3 linked regions of the Homo sapiens genome follow. The protein of the gene in region 3 interacts with the protein of the main gene of each other region in a pairwise test. Each region holds a gene or a part of one and is shown on either strand. Other genes may lie near its edges.

Region 1 (3,750 bases), on a different chromosome or scaffold from region 3:
CTCCTCCTTCTCTACGGTCCTAGCTTATATTAATAGCTGGGTGGAATGAGTTGTACCTCCCTCCTTTCTCCCCACTGTGAAGGAGAATGAGGAGATCACACACCCAGAATACAGAAGACCAGGGAGAAAGCTAAGATCTGATCCCGCAAAGTCTGGATATTTCACAACCCCTTTTTGCAGCACTCAGGCCACTCACCCATAACAGGTAAATGAGAACTTGAGCGCAGGCGCACTCTGAGCTTTTCTGGGAGACTGTGGCTGTTCAGCGCCATGACACTGTTCTCCAAAGGCAAACGTGCCCCCAAATACCCTCCTCGGCCTTAACCAATTATGGAGCTACCAGCCATTATTTAATTTTTAGAGTGTTCATAATTCTCACCTGAACTGTCCCATCCAATAAACAATGACACAAACCTACTAATATCTGAGCAAAGGAAAGATGAAAGGACACAGGCTCGAAAGTATGGCAGACTCATGTCAAATCCCAGGCTCATGTCAAATCCCAGGCTCACCTTTTATTAACCCAAGCACTGGGCAGGTCAAATCTCTGGCTCCCTTTACTCATAGGTAATATACTTCTCCACTGCTGTGAGATCCAGTGAGGTAATTTATGAGACTCTCTGCTTTGGTGGTGCTCTCTGCCTAATCAAATCTTGGGTTAGCACAAACATAAGCTACTATTCAAGCAGCTCTTTTTACATGCCCCCAAACTAGCTTCCTTCTAAACTTCAAATGGTGCCCCCCACCTGCCCCCGCCCCCGGGTGTAGTATACTTGGATGTGGCCACCAACTCCACAGCCTGGATTTCTTAGAACTCAACTGTAGGTCCTCTCCACCTCGGTCATGCCAGAGTCCCTTTTTTCTGGAACCTTCTCCAGCTGTCTGCCGCAGGTCGTGCTTGAGATGGAGGGGAGACGGCAGCCCCGTGGACTGTTTCCAGTGAGCATGGATGGACTCATCTGTGCCCATGATGATTTTAAATATTAGAAGCAACCCAGAGACAAAGAAAGTCCCTCGTAAGAAAGGTATCAGTCAAAACAAACAAATTCCACAAGCCACCGAAAGTCAGGAGGGCAGGACTGGCCTCTAAACGGGAGCCTTACTCCCTCCACCTGGGCGTTTCGTGGTTTGGAAGCCCTGGGAGCCCCAGCGAGTCCGCCCCCAGCCCGAACCAGGCTCGCTGCAGCCCCCATCCAGCTCAAGGTGCTCCTTCTTTTCCACCTCGGGGTCTTCCCACCCCCTTCCCCAGGGGAGGCCCGGGTCTGTGCTCAGAGGCCTCCACGGACCAACGAACCAACTGGCAACTGAACTGCCGAACGCACGCCGCACGCCGAGGCCTGAGAACCGAGAGCCTAGGGCAAAAGGGACACCGCAGCCGCCTGCTTCTCCCACAGAGGCGCGTTCCGGGGTTGCCGGGACACCGGCTCCAGTAACGCGGCGCGCAGCGTCCTGCCTGGCTCGGCTGCCGGCCCCCCTGTCTGTCACCCCCCGGCTCTCTGGCCATTGGTACAGGATGGAGGCTCCTGAGAGGTACGGAGCAAGGAGCTCCAGCCATGGCCCGGCGTCACAGGCAAGGACCGCTGCAAAAGCCACTTTGTGATTTTGGACTTTTTTTTTTTTTTTAAGAGTTGTGGTTCTTTTCCAGGCAATTTTCATTATTAGAACTGTAGGCTCTGGTAGCAGTGAAAGATGCGCCCTCCACAAAGCTTGCAGATGCCTGGTTATAATTGGCGTTGATTAGACAGGATCCACCTACCACTTACAGAGCGCCTTTTCTGGGCCAGGCGCCCTGGTGGATATTATCTTCCTTAAACAGCCAGCTGCGTTTTTCAAAATAGAAAACCAAATTTTAGCAAAGGCTTGCGCAAGGTCACCCAGAAAACAGATTCATTTCTAAGTTTCCTCATTCCAAATCCACCACTCTTTCCATCATATTGACTTAAATTTGTCTTCCTCATCCTTTCCAGTATCTAATAAATCTTGCATAGAAAGCTTTTCTCCAAGTCTAGTTTAAGTCCCTAAATTCGTGTTTAGACCAAGTTTTCCCTTCTTTTGTTACTGATTATAAGAGAAATAAATGGTCATTATAGAAATATTGGAAAATATGGAAAAGTATTATTAATATCCATGATCTCACCATACAGAAGTTAAATACTTTTTTCCTGGATAGCTATTGCTATATAACAAATCACCCTCAAACTCTGTTGTTTTAAACAACAACATTCATTTTTAATTTCTGATCCTGGTCGTTGGCTAGGCTAAGCTAGGCTGTTCATGCTTGGGGTCTCTCACAGGGTCTCAGTCAGAGGTCACAGAGGAGCTTCCTCACTCATGTGTCTGGTGATTGATGCTGGTTGTCAGTTGAGGTCAGCAGGGTTAGCGCCAGTTCACCCATGTGTGGCGTTTCCATGTGCTTTCTCACACCAGTGTCTGAGTTTCCAACGTGAGCATCCCAGGAGGACCAGGCAGAAGTTGTATTGCCTCCATAGTCACAAATGCATGGAGAGGGAACTTAGATCACACCTCTCCATCATGGTCATACTGTATGAAGAGCACAGGGGACAGGGGATCTTGTGGCCCTCCTAGAAAATACAATCTCCCCTACTGATATTTAGGGGTTATTCCTTGTCCTTTTTCTATGCACATGTATGTCATATACCCCTAGTGATTTACACCCCTGCTGATATTTAGGGGCTCCTTCCTCTCTACCCTTTTTCTGTGCACAAATATGTTAACATATTATAGATAGATAGATAGATAGATAGATAGATAGATAGATAGATAGATATAGATATAGATATCTCTTGTATTGGGCTTTTAAAATTTAAGATTATAGTTGATGGCTGGGGCTGTGGCTCACGCCCATAATCCCATAATCCCAGCACTTTGGGAGGCCGAGGTGGGTGGATCACTTGAGATCAGGAGTTCAAGACCAGCCTGGCCGTCATGATGAAACCCGTCTCTACTAAAAATACAAAAAAAAAAAAATTAGCCAGGCGTGGTGGCAGGCACCTGTAATCCCAGTTATTTGGGGTGCTGAAGGAGAACTGCTTGAACCCGGGGGGCAGAGGTTGCAGTGAACTGAGATCATGCCACTGCACTCCATCCTGGACAAGAGAGTGAGACTCCATCTCAAAAAAAAAAAAAAAAAGTTGGCCCTCCATATCTGAGGGTTTTGGATCCACAGATATGACCAACTACAGATTAAAAATATTCAAAAAATATATAAAAATTTAAAATAATACAGATAAAAACAGCAAAGTATAGCAACAATTTACATAGCATTTACATTGCTTTAGGTATTATAAATAATCTAGGGATGATTTGAAGTACCGTACAGGAGGATTTGCATAAGTTATATGCAAATACTATGCCATTTTGTAAAAGGGACTTGAACATCCTTGATATGCTCAAGATTTTGGTGTGGGAGGGGAGTCCTAGAACAAATCCCCCAGGGATACAGAAGGATGGCTGCATATCCTGAGCATTTCCCCTTATTGAAGTTAAAAAAACATGTTATCTCTTTATCCCACGGTAGGAGAGGTAACAGTTATTTAATAGAAATGTTAGCTGGGCAACAGCATAGTTAGTTATTAATGGCTTGACTCAAGAGGCTGCCTCACCAGGAAGGCAGAGATTTTTGTCTATTTTGTCCACTGCTGTATGCCAAGCAACTAGCACAGTGCCTGGCACATATAAATGCTCAATAACCATTTATTTAATGAATGAATAAATGAGTGAGTGGGTGGG
Region 2 (3,750 bases), on a different chromosome or scaffold from region 3:
CACTACTGGCATCTGGTGAGGCCCGGGATGCTGCTCAGCATCCTACAATGCAGGGGACAGTCCCCTCAAAAAGAATCACCTGGCCCCAAATGTCAGTAATGTCGAGGTGGAGGGTCAATCTCTAAGTCAATCTTCAGCCATGTCCAGAACATCGCCAAAGGCCCCTTGCAGAGGAGCATAGAGGTAGCCCCACACACCTCTTCTACACCAATTTCCAAAAAGAAGTTTCCTCCCCAGGTCTCATCTTACAAGACAGTTTGGAGGGATAGGGAAAGAAGAAGAGGAGACCATTCCGGGCACCAGCAAACAAAGATGGCTCCTCCTCCACCAACAACCTCCACCTCCTGCAAGGGAGGAACGCCAGACTTGGGCAATCTTTGGTCAAACAGGAAAATGTAAGGCTGAATTGAAGGGGTACTCCCTCCACCCCATCTGCCCAGAAGTAAAAGTCAGGGTAGTTTCTTTGCGCACTGAACTCCACGCTTGTGAACAGACACCAGGACCCCGCTCCCGGGGTGCCCATCCAGCCAGGAGGAAAAGTAAGCAGAGGAGCGGGGCAGGGGCAGCTTGGCTGAGGCTGCCGGGGTGAGGTGCCCCTCACTTGTTCTCAATCAGAGTCTGCACCTTGTACACGAGGTCCCGCGCCAGCTTCAGGACTTGCTTGGTGTTGTGTCGCTCAGCCATTTCTGAAAGAGCAGAAAGAAAAATCTCATGAGCCTCCTTCTGTGTCCAGTCTTAGGGTACAATTCCAGCCCCTGGAGGCTTCTCTGGGGGCATCTCCATCACAGATTGACTCAGGAAGCAGAGGCCCTGGAGAAGGCCTCTACCTCTGGACCTTAGTTTCCTCATCTGTAAAATGGGGATTGGAACAGCAGCCACCTCACCAAGTTACTGTGCGGATTGAATGGGATAATGCTGGTTCACAGGATGTGCCATAAAAAGGTGAGGTCGGCCGGGCATGGTGGCTCATGGCTGTAATCCCAGCACCTTGGGAGGCCGAGGCAGGTGGATCACCTGAGGTCGGGAGTTTGAGACCAGCCTGACTAACATGGAGAAACCCTGTCTCTACTAAAAATACAAAACTAGTCGGGTGTGGTGGCGCATGCCTGTAATCCCAGCTACTCAGGAGGCTGAGGCAGAAGAATCGCTTGAACCCAGGAGGCGGAGCTTGTGGTGAGCCGAGATTGCACCACTGCACTCCAGCCTGGGCAACAAGAGCGAAACTCCGTCTCAAAAAAAAATAAAAATAAAAATGAAAAGGTGAAGTCCTTCCACCCCTCTCCTATAAACAGAATGACTGAGAGCAGTGCTGGGCACACAGTAGACGCTGAAAGATATGAAAAGGAGGAAGCAACAGAGGGAGGAAAGATGGAGAAGGAAGAGGAGAAAGGGACAAAAAAACCAAAGAAAAAAATAATTTTATCAAGAGCCACACAATGTGGTCAGACTTCTAAGCCAAATAATCCTAAACGTAGACATTTATCATAAATAAACCATTTAGTAGAAAGAAAAAAAAGAAAAACACTAAAACTAAGACATGGTTCCCAAACTGGGTACCAAGGTACCCCAGCGTGTCATAGTGATTTGCAGGGGCACTGTGGAGTATTTGGGTATTTCGAGGGAAGCGTGGGAATACTCCATCTAAGTTGAGCACCATGTCAACTGTTAGCTGGAGTGAGTTCACAAATTTCACTACACTCCCATCAATAACTTTCTTCTTTTTTTTTCTTTTGAGACAAGGTCTCACTCTGTTGCCCAGGGTGGAGTGTGGTGTGGTGTGATCTCGACTCACTATAACCTCCACCTCCCAAGCTCAAGTGATTCTCATGCCTCCTCTAATCCCAACCTCCTGAGTAGCTGGGATTACAGGTATGCACCATCACGCTGGGCTAATTTTTGTATTTTTAGTAGAGACAAAGTTTTGCCATGTTGGCCAGAATGGTCTGGAACTCCTGACCTCAAGCAATCCACCCACCTTGGCCTGCCCAAGTGCTGAGATTATAGGCGTAAGCCACTGTACCCAGGGTCCCATCAATGACTTTGTCTTTGCAAAGCTAGGTTTTCAGCAGCTGCTGCAACAGAAAGTAAGTGCCATGGGCCAGGCCCGGTGGCTCACGCCTGTAATCCCAGAACTTTGGGAGGCCGAGGCGGGTGGATCATGAGGTCAGGAGATCGAGACCATCCTGGCTAACATGGTGAAACCCCATCTCTACTAAAAATACAAAAAAATTAGCTGGGTGTGGTGGTGGATGCCTGTAGTCCCAGCTACTTGGGAGGCTAAGGCAGGAGAATGGCATGAACCTGGGAGGCAGAGCTTGCAGTGAGTCGAGATCGCGCCACTGCACTCCAGCCTGGGTGACAGAGCAAGACTCCGTCTCAAAAAAAAAAAAAAGGCCGGGCACAGTGGCTCATGCCTGTAATCCCAGATCTTTGGGAGGCCGAGGTGGGCGGATCACGAGGTCAAGAGATCGAGACCATCCTGGCTAACACGGTGAAACCCCATCTCTACTAAAAATACAAAAAATTAGCCAGGTGTGGTGGCGGGCGCCTGCAGTTGCAGCTATTCAGGAAGCTGAGGCAGGAGAATGGCGTGAATCCCACAGGTGGAGCTTGCAGTGAGCTGGATTGGCTACTGCACTCCAACCTGGGTGACAGAGCGAGACGCCATCACAAAAAAAAAAAAAAAAAAAAAGAAAGTAAGTGCCATGTGAAAATCAATATGGAATAGAAAACAAAAGAGGTGGTGTCCAATCTGATTCCAAGGCTTGAGAAGGTATGCAAAGCCCAATGGGTGCATACACCCCATTAGCAATTGTGCTTATTCGGGAATGATGTAAAAATGTTATTTTCTTTAGATATATATGTATTATTGGCTAGGCACGGTGGTTCACACCTGTAATCCCAGTACTTTGGGAAGCTGAGGTGGGCAGATCACCTGAGGTTGGGAGTCTGAGACCAGCCTGACCAACATGGAGAAACCCTGTCTCTACTAAAAAAATACAAAATTAGTATTTTGTGGTTGTGCATGCCTGTAATCCCAGCTACTCAGGAGGCTGAGGCAGGAGAATCACTTGAACCCAGGAGGCGGAGGTTGTAGTGAGCTGAGATCATGCCATTGTACTCCAGCCTGGGCAACAAGAGTGAAATTCCATCTCAAAAAAAAAAAAAGATACATATGTATTATTTTTTCAATGGCTTCTAAATTGTTAGGATATAAATACTTATTAAGCGGTTTGGACTTAACTACTTACTAAATGAAACTTTTGGCCTGGGGTGCTGTTATAATTTTACAGAGACACTAGGGGTGCATGAATTGAGAAAATTTGGGAATCTTTATGCTAACAGATGAATTGCTTTGGACTCTCGATCACACCTTCAAACTGAAAATAACCTACATGCTAATGATAAGAAATGGTTCAGTAAGTTATAGAATAGTCACTTGAGATATATTTTGTAGTTTTAAAAAATGACTGGCTGGGCACAGTGGCTCACACCTATAATCCCAGCACTTTGGGAGGCCAAGGCAGACGGATCGCCTGAGGTCAGGAGTTCTAGACTAGCCTGGCCAACATGGCAAAACTCTGTCTCTACTAAAAATATAAAAATTAGCCGGGCGTGGTGGTGCGTGTCTGTAATCCCAGCTACTCAGGAGGCTGAGGCGGGAGAATCACTTGAACCTGGGAGGCGGAGGTTGCAGTGAGCTGAGATCGTGCCACTTCACTCCAGCGCGGGTAACAGAGTGAGACTCCG
Region 3 (3,750 bases):
CCTGGTGACAGAGTGAAGCTCTGTCTCAAAAAAAAAAAAAAAAAAAGAATTAGCTGGGCACAGTGGCATGTCTGTAGTCCCAGCTACTTGGGAGGCTAAGCAGGAGGATTGCTTGAGCCCTGGAGTTTGAGGCTGCAGTGATCTATGATAGCACTACTGCACTCCAGCCTGGGTGATGGAGTGAGACCCTATCTCAAATAAAATAATAATTATAATAAAGACTGCCAGGCACATGGTGGCATGCACATGTGGTCCCAGCTATTTGGGAGGCTGAGGTGGGAGGATCACCAGAGCCCAGGGAGGTTGAGGCTGCAGTGAACTGTGATTGCACCACTGCACTCCAGCGGGGCAATGGGAGTGAGAATCTGTCTCAAAAGTAATAATTATATATATATATATTTATATATATATATATATATATATATATATATATATATATATATATGTTCTAGTATTTTCCTCCCATACCTCCAATGTATAATATCTCATGCACCCTGTGGTCCACCCCCCAAAGACATACACACAACACTTTAGAGTCTCTGATGTAGTCAAAGGGAGTCATTGGAGGTTCTGGAACAGATGACAGGCATGGTAGCAGTTGATTCACAAACTGAAAGCTGAGACATCAAAGAACTGCGACTGCCTTGGAATGTTTCCCATGTGCTAGCCACCGCCTCAGTGCTTTATACATAAATCAGTTAATCCCTATAGCAAGCCTCCATTGTGAATACCATAATTATCTTAACAGACGAGGAGACTGAGGCACAATGAAGTTAAGAAACTTTCCTAGAGTCACACGAAATTGGTGGGGGCCTACTTTTTTTTTTTTTTTTTTTTTTTTTTTTTTTTTTTTTTGAGACTGAATCTAGCTCTGTCGCCAGGCTGGAGTCCAGTGGCGCGATCTCACCTCACTGCAACCTCCGCCTCCCGGATTCAAGCGATTCTCCTGCCTCGGCCTCCCCCCACTAGCTGGGATTACAGGCACTCGCTGCCACACCCAGCTAATTTTTGTATTTTTAGTAGAGACAGGGTTTCACCATATTGGCCAGGATGGTCTCGATCTCCTGAGCTTGTGATCCGCCCACCTCGGCCTCCCATAGTGCTGGGATTACAGGCCTGAGCCACTGCGCCCGGCTGGGGGCCTACATTTGACCCCACGTGGTGGTTTGGGCTCATAGTCCATGTGCTTAACCACTAGTGGGTAGGCAGGGAGCCAGTGTTCTTTCTCTCCTGTGACTTTGGTGAAGTCTCTCACCACTCAGTGTTGTCGTGAGCATGCTAGGCAGAGTGCAAGAAAGGAGCAAGAACTCACTAATGGCTAGGCCTTCCCTGTGTCTCTGTAATTGATGGGTTTGGGTTTTTTTTCCTTTCTCTCTCTCTACCTCCTCTCTCTCTTCTTCATCCTCTCTCTCTCACTCTCCCCCTGAGATAAGGTCTTGCTCTGTTGCCAGGGCTGGAATGCAATGGAATGGTGTGATCATGGCTCACTACAGCCTCAATCTCCTGGGCTCAAGGGATCCTCCCACCTCAACCTCCTGAGTAGCTGGAACCACAGGCATGCACCACCTCGCCCGGCTAATTTTTTATTTTTTGTAGAGAGGGGAGTTTCGCCATGTTGCCCAGGCTGTTTTCGAACTCCTGGGCTGAAGTGATCTTCCTCCCTCAGCCTTCCAAGGTGCTGGGATTGCAGACGTCAGCCACCGTACCAGGCCAACGGGCTCGGTTTCTATGGTTTTGTGGGGAGACGGCTGAGGGAAGGTCGGCTTCCGGCGTCGCGCTGCAAACGTCTCGCTGAGGTCATCCTTTACGGCAGGCGTCCGCGTCGCTAGCTAGTCGTTCTGAAGCGGCGGCCAGAGAAGAGTCAAGGGCACGAGCATCGGGTAGGTAGGGGCTGCTTATGTCCGCGCGGCAGCTTAGCTTAAGGACCTTCCTTCCGAGGTCTCTTTAACAGATTTCCTCTTGGCTTGCTGTGTGTCCCCTTCTCCCAGACCTGAACTCAGGGCGTGTTCCCTGCCCTCCCAGGCCGCTTCACCTCCACAGCTAATGGCACCGAAGCCTGGAGATTGCCGCTCTCTCCACTTTCCACATTTGTTTAGGTTTTTGCCGGACTAATGTTTTGGCTTTCTGTTTCTTAACCTAAAGTCTACGATCCTTATCCCAGCTTTCCAGGCTCTGCGTGATTTCGGCCCCGCCGGCCTCCTGAGCTCATTTCATTCTTTTCACCGTCATGCACGCTGCGCTCCATTGTCCCCCAAACATAGCCAGCACTTCCGGCTGTAACTCCGGGCTGTTGCCCAACTGGAACACTCTGCCCACTGATCTTCACTTGGCGAACTCGCAAGCCATGTTAAAGGCATTTTCAAGTCTCCGGGCAGAGTTCGTGCTTCCTCCTTCGAGCTCTTACCCACTCGTGTTCCTTGCAGTGTATTCGCAATTCCGAGTGTGTGTCTCTGGTGCTTACGTTGGAGCTGCTTTCCCCCGCATCTGAGTGCCTGGAACGTAACTACTCAGTAAATGATGACTGAGGGATGGGAAGGAACTTAAGAAGTTAAATTCACCTTTTTGTTGAGATGGAGTTTCGCTCTTGTTGCCCAGGCTGGAGTGCAGAGTGGCGCGATCTCGGCTCACTGCAGCCTCTGCCTCCCGGATTCAAGCGATTCTCCTCCCTGAGACTCCCGAGTAGCTGGGATTACAGGCATGCGCCCCCACGCCCGGCTAATTTTGTATTTTTTTAGTAGAGAGAGGGTTTCGCCATGTTGGTCAGGCTGGTCTTGAACTCGCGGCCTCAGGTGATCCGCCCGCCTCGGCCTCCCAAGGTGCTGGAATTACAGGCGTGAGCCACTGCGCCCAACTAAATTCACCTTTAAATCTACCATGAGTACACATTTATATTGATATTTGTGGGTGTGCGCGCGCTTCCTTTCAGTCATTTTAGGCAGTCAGGGTTTGTTTTTGTGTGTGTGTTTTTACATTTAACATTATTATGTATTTGCATGTAAATTTTTTTCCCTACTGTCTGTAATAGTCTACAAAGTAAGTCTTAACCCATTTCTTTCGCTCTGGTTTTTTTTTTTTTTTGAGACAGGATCTCGCTTTGTTGCCCAGGATGGAGTGCAGTGGCCAGGTCATAGCTCACTGAAGCCTTGAACTCCTGGCCTCAGTCTCCTGCCTCAGCCTTAGGAGTAGCTGGGACTACAGGCGCACATACCACCACAAGTGCCTTTTTTTTTTTTTTTTTTTTTTTTTGAGACAGAGAACCTGACCAAAGGATCCAAATTCTTTTTTTCTTCTTCTTCTTTTTTTTTTTTTTTTTTTTTTGAGACAGAGTCTCGCTCTGTCGCCCAGGCTGGAGTACAATGGCGGATCTTGGCTTATTGCAACCTCTGTCTCCCCAGTTCAAGCAGTTCTCCTGTCTCAGCCTCCCGAATAGTTGGGATTACAGGCATGTGCCAACACGCCCAGCTAATTTTTTTGTATTTTTAGTAGAGACGGGATTTCACCATATTGGCCAGGCTGGTCTTGAACTCCTGACCTCAGGTAATCCACCCGCCTTGGCCTCCCAAAGTTCTGGGATTACAGGCATGAGCCACCGCGCCTGGCCCACAAGTGGCTGATTTAAAAAAAAAATTTAGGCCAGGTGCAGTGGCTCACACCTGTAATCCCAGCACTTTGGGAGGCCAAGGCGGGCGGATCACCTGAGGTCAGGAGTTCAAGACCAGCCTCGCCAACATGCTGAAACCCCATCTCTAC

The links.
Region 1: the proteins of NDUFS5 (region 3) and SPATS1 interact in binary tests that used the Homo sapiens proteins (3 or more experiments, as listed by UniProt).
Region 2: the proteins of NDUFS5 (region 3) and SGSM1 interact in binary tests that used the Homo sapiens proteins (3 or more experiments, as listed by UniProt).

What each region holds. Positions count from the first base shown.
Region 1 is NC_000006.12:44,340,305-44,344,054, reverse strand, and holds the start of SPATS1 (spermatogenesis-associated serine-rich protein 1), read right to left. Parts: upstream 1,406-3,750; 5' UTR 1,287-1,405; intron 960-1,286; coding exon 821-959; intron 1-820.
Region 2 is NC_000022.11:24,921,122-24,924,871, reverse strand, and holds part of SGSM1 (small G protein signaling modulator 1), read right to left. Parts: intron 687-3,750; coding exon 598-686; 3' UTR 1-597. UniProt on the Homo sapiens protein: Interacts with numerous Rab family members, functioning as Rab effector for some, and as GTPase activator for others. Promotes GTP hydrolysis by RAB34 and RAB36.
Region 3 is NC_000001.11:39,024,519-39,028,268, forward strand, and holds the start of NDUFS5 (NADH dehydrogenase [ubiquinone] iron-sulfur protein 5), read left to right. Parts: upstream 1-1,831; 5' UTR 1,832-1,884; intron 1,885-3,750. UniProt on the Homo sapiens protein: Accessory subunit of the mitochondrial membrane respiratory chain NADH dehydrogenase (Complex I), that is believed not to be involved in catalysis. Complex I functions in the transfer of electrons from NADH to the respiratory chain.